2 separate regions of the Homo sapiens genome follow, and region 2 is linked to region 1. The links come from fine-mapping of genetic effects on gene expression. Tissue or cell type: whole blood. Region 1 holds a variant in brackets; the other region holds the start of a gene. All regions are shown on one strand. Distances are between the middles of the regions.

The links. PIP is the estimated chance that this variant, and not a neighbour inherited with it, causes the effect.
Region 2: it holds the start of EIF4ENIF1, and the variant in region 1 is fine-mapped to the expression of EIF4ENIF1 in whole blood (INTERVAL, PIP 0.94).

What each region holds. Positions count from the first base shown.
Region 1 is chr22:31,573,659-31,576,342 of GRCh38, reverse strand. SFI1 (SFI1 centrin binding protein) reads right to left here. Exons shown (of 33, transcript NM_001007467.3): 10 at 951-1,112. Among named protein-coding and RNA genes, the nearest start is that of MIR7109, 47 kb to the left of the region's middle. The variant ACG/G (reference allele first, on the strand shown) is at 1,256.
Region 2 is chr22:31,488,410-31,491,093 of GRCh38, reverse strand. It overlaps EIF4ENIF1 (eukaryotic translation initiation factor 4E nuclear import factor 1), which reads left to right and starts at 1,252. Exons shown (of 19, transcript NM_019843.4): 1 at 1,252-1,400; 2 at 2,349-2,471. The coding sequence starts at 2,376. RefSeq lists enhancers at 238-297, 697-1,319, 1,320-1,943 and silencers at 848-1,497, 1,578-1,867.

The DNA.
Region 1 (2,684 bases):
TCTCAAAAAAAAAAAAGAGGCTGGGTACGCTGGCTCATGCCTGTAATCCCAGCACTTCGGGAGGCTGAGGTGGGTGGATCACCTGAAGTCAAGAGTTCGAGACCAGCCTGGCCAACATGGCGAAACCCCGTCTCTACTAAAAATACAAAAATTAGCCAGGCGTGGTGGCACATGCCTGTAATCCCAGCTACTCGTGAGGCTAAGGCAGGAGAATCGCTTGAACCTGGGAGGCGGAGATTGCAGTGAGCCGAGATTGTACCACTGCACTCCAGCCTGGGTGACAGAGCAAGAGTCCATCTCAAAAAAAAAAAAAAAGAATATGTACACAGGAGTTAAAGGCCTAGGTTTTGAAAATCTTGACTCTGCCAATGACCTGTGACTTTAGAATACACTCAGCTCCTCTGAATCTCTTTCCTCGTCTGTAAAATGGTAATAGTGGCACCTACTCCACAGCGTTGCTATGAGGATGAAGAGGATGATGCATAATGTCTGCTACGTAGTAAAAGCGCAATAAATGGAAACTATGATCACGGTGATGGTATCACCAAGAAAAAGATAGTGGTGGCTATTTCCACCACCTAGTGGGTAGAGAAAAGCACTTAAATTGTAACACCAAAAAATGTGAATCAGGAAAGTGGGATTACCTCTGAGGGAAAAGAAAAAGAACGCAGTCAGGGAGGAGCAAATAGGTGTGCTAGGAAGGTTCTATTTTGAAAGTTGGGTGATAAGATATATAGTTGTTCATTTTATTATTTTTAAACTATATATAAGCACTCTTTTTATACACAATCCCAATTAAACAAAAATTTTAAGACTGTCAACAGAGATAAGGCTGTTTTGAATCGTTTGGCAATTGTTTCCCATGTATCTCATGACTTTCGTTTCACATGCTGCTGAGCTCATGCTGTCCTGGCTGAGGCAATGGACAGCCTGAGTATCTGAAAGGATACAGTGTTTCCAGTGAGTAAAGGCGCGCCGCAGGGCCATCTTCCTGGCCAGTTTCTCCACCTGGGCATGGTGAGCGTACAAGCTCTCCCTCCGCTCCCAGGCCTGCTGCCAGTCACAGAAGTATATCTGGAGCACAGTGACATGATGGAATCGCTCAGCCATCTCTGCAACAGAGAAATAACTTAAGTGCTACTCCCCTAAGGTTAGATGAGCTGGAAACATCTTTAAGACAAGCTGAACCCCACTACTGGCAGAGAGCAGGGGTTCAAGGCCACACACACACACACACACACACACACACACACAC[ACG/G]CACTAAGTTTTTTTTTTTTTTTCTTTGAGTTGGAGTCTCGCTCTGTTGCCCAGGCTGGAGTGCAGTGGCGGGATCTCGGCTCACTGCAACCTATGCCTCCCAGGTTCCAGCGATTCTCCTGCCTCAGCCTCCCAAGTTGCTAGAATTACAGGCATGTGCCACCACCCCTGGCTGATTTTTCTGCATTTTTAATAGAGATGGGGTTTCACCATGTTAGCCAAGCTGGTCTCGAACTCCTGACCTCAAGTGATCCGCCCGCCTCAGCCTCTCACAGTGCTGGGATTACAGACGTGAGCCACCGCGCCCGGCCAAAATACAAGTTTTTTAAACCTTGAAAGGTCATTAGGAATCCCTGAGCTACATCTCCTCTCTCCAAGGAAAGAGAAAAGGTCTGTGATTTTAGGGAGGAGGATGCTATAAAATCAGTTACATCAAAGGGCTGAGGCTTCTAGTTAGATACTGATGAACAGAAATGAAAACTGTTACTTTCAAAAAGGACTGTTTTACTTTTGCTTCTAAACAAATGTCTCCTGGATAGGACTTAGAGATTGAGTCAATGACATAAAATTCAGTTGCCACGCTGGCATAGGCTTTTTTGAGCTTTCAGCCAACCTGATCCTGGCTGCCAGCTTCATCTCCTTTTAATGCTAGTCAGATAATGGTCTGATGAGCTAGGGCCTGGGAAGGGGATGGGAATCAGACCTGGAATTTGAATGCTGTAATTGGAGGCAGGCATTAGTCTATAGCTTATCATACTAAACAGCTTAATGCCTTCACATTCCAGGACTGGGCAACTGGACTGTTGGTCTGGGGTCACTATCCTCCAATGAACATATTCAAACTCTCCCAAGAGACAGTGTTGGCAGCGTAAGAGATTTCTGCAGGGAGGTTTGGGTGAACGCCAGAGACCCTTAACCCAGTGTCTAGCACAGTGCTTGACTTACTTTGGTATAAACTCAATAAACTTAAGTTAAAAAGTGTACTAATGTTCACATTTCTATGTATTATTACTTCTGAATCTAATTGGGAAACAAAACCATATAAACAGTATCCAAAAAACTCAACATCAAAATCACATGCATTTGCATAACTGGAGACAAACAGAAACTATCCAAATATCTATTAATAGGAGAATGGCTAAGTATATTAAGGTAAGCCATCCTATAAAATATGAATAGTTGTTAAAAAATAACATTTACGACAAATACTTAAGATGTAGGGAAGTGTTGATTAACTGTGTGGAAAAAAGGAAGATACAAAACCATAGGTTATCAACATATTAATCAAAATAATTACAATACTTATAGCAAAATGAAAACCCTATTTAGATAAAAAATATACAGAAGAGGCCGGAAACAGTGGCTCACGCCTGCAATCCCAGCACTTTGGGAGGCTGAGGCAGGCGGATCACCTGAGGTCAGGAGTT
Region 2 (2,684 bases), 85 kb after region 1:
CAGAGATGAGAATGCAAACTCAGGCCTGATGTGCAAGTGTTTCCCTCTGCCTCTTGCCTGTAAAAAAACAGTTTGTAAGAAACACACTTTATTCAGTAATACAAACGAAAAGTTTTCTGTTGCCAAGATTCACAAGAAGGGAGCTGAGTTAGTGGTCACTCACTGCCCAACACCCTAATTTCACAAGTGAAGTGAAGTTCCAACAAAGTAGGCCTCTTGGAAGAAATGTAGACGTTGCTGTCCTTTAACCAGGAAAATTGCGTTCTCGGGACTTCACGCCTATGTATCGCTTCACACCAACGCTGCGCAGTACCACAGGGCAGAAATGGGTGCTTGTGGTATTCCAGCACATAGGACTTCCTCCCCAGGATGCAGTTACCCACACTGCTCACATATTTGCATTTCTGTGGCCCCCTGTCAGCCTGAGTCTGCACTACGTGGTAAGCACTTGACATTCGCCGTCTCATTTCCCCAACTCCACTCGCACTTCCCCTTTCTGTGCAGGCTAAGGACAGATTCAGGTTACCGGAGGGAAACAACATTTCAATGAATTTGTTAGTCGCCTTTATCGCTATCAAAGCCAATCGTGACAAGTTTGTCTTTTAATGCAGCAACCAGTACTCGCGCATAAGCCTCATAGATTTACAGAGGCCATTTTAGAAACACGACCGAAACTTAGGTTAAGTCAGCTTTGCCTAAGATCACGCCACTCGCAAAACAGCTGAGGTTCGAACCCGCACTGGGAAGGCTCGGAAGACCCCAATCTCCTATCTCAAATTCCCACTGCCGAAGCCCCACGGTTCTCTGCCTATGCGAACCATGCAAATACAGCGGTCGTCGCGCCACAGGCCGTGCTAGCCGCCAGCCCAGCCCCATCTAGCCACCGCCTCCGGGAGAGTGGCGTGCCGCGAGTCGCGGGTCCCAAGTGCCGTCCGCTCTGCCCTGCAGCGCGCGTGGGAACGCGGCGGCGGTGGCCTCTGGGCTGCCCACGGCGACCGCCTGCGCGCACGGGAGCGGGTTTCCGCTATCCCCACCGTGGCCTCCTCCTCGCCGCCACCACCTTCCCACCCCCCGGCCCGCGCAGGGGCTGGCGTCCGGGAAGCGCGCGGCGATGCTTCTTTTTCGCCCGGCACCGCTGCAGCCACCTCACATCCGGGCGCGCGGCGGGGAAGGCGGCGCCGGGGCCAGGGTGCGTGGAGGGAGTTATTAAGGGGGAGGGGGCCGAAGAGGAGGGGCGGAGGGCCGGGCTGCAGTTACGGCGGCTGAAGAGAGACAGCCCAAGCCGGTCGGGGTGGGGGCGCGAGAGCGAAGGCTGCGGGGAGCGGCGCTGGGACCGGTGCGGGCAGCGGGGAGGGGAGCGGCGGCCGAGGCAAAGGGCCGCCGAGCGGCGGAGGCACCGAGTAAGGGTCGGCGGCGGTGGCGGCTGGGTCCGGGGCACCGCGCGCCCGGTGCTCCCGGGTGTAGAAGGGGCGCGGGCGCATTGCTCCCGGGGTCGCGTGCGTGAGCGCGGGCGCCGGGGCGCCCGCAGGGGGTGGGCAGGGGCGCGAGGCCCGCAAGGCGGCCGGCGGGTAGCCGGCGGGCTGGCTGGCGGGGACCGAGCCGCCGGGCCGGGGAGGACGGCTGCGGGCCTGCGCTAGCTCCAGCTTGAAGCGCCCGGGCCGGGAGATTCGGCCTCCCTCCTCCCTGCGGCCGGCCGCCCCTCAGTGAGTACGGTCTCCGCCCTTCCTCCGAAGGAGGCCGCTGGGCCCGGGCCTGCGTGAGGGGCTGCGGGTTGGGGTCGCGGCCCGGGGAAGCCAAGTTTCGGAGCTGAAGCCGGTGCTCGCCCTTTCCTTGCCATCGGCGCCCCTGACATGGCCACAGGTGCGGCTGGCCTGGCGAGGGGCGCTCGGGCCCCGTCCCCAGTCCCTGATCGCCGGATAACAAGGGGCAGCTGGCGCCGTCCATTGGCAAGTGACAGGCACTTTCCAACAGACTTCGCGGGTTCCCAGCCTAACCAGTCTTCTACCTGCCCCCACTCCGGGAAACTTCCCCACCAGTCTTGAAAGATCCCCATGGGTGGCAGCTACTAATCTTGGTTTCTCTTGTGTTAAAGCTGCTTAAAGGTTATATACCTTGAATTGGGCACCTTCTACTTTTTACCATGTTGATGCTTAGGATACTAGGAAAGAGAACTGAGTACCAATGATTCTATCTCCAAGTTCTAATTTATAGCATAATTTTGGGGTGGGGACTTGTTTTTAACACTAGCTGTTTTGAGAGATTAAAAAGTTTCAGCTTCTGAAGAAACAGCCAAGATTTCTGAAAACTTACTGTTCTCGGTGACAATTTTGTGCCGATTTATCTTCCAGGTGCAGAGCATTGTAGACCAAGGAGCCATGGATAGGAGAAGTATGGGTGAAACAGAAAGTGGAGATGCTTTCCTTGACCTGAAGAAGCCTCCTGCCTCCAAATGCCCCCATCGCTATACAAAAGTAAGGTTTGCCACTAATGAAATAGTGTTTCTTTTTAGGTGGCGAAGTTAGTAACATTGTATAACTATTTCATTCCTATTAAGTGGTAATCTCATTCTGACTCACTACATGGACTAAATATTAACTAAATTTAGTAGTGCATTACTTTGAACATTTTTCTGCAAGTGTAGATACCCAGCGTTTAAGCTGGAATTTGCTTTGAGAGGCTTTTAG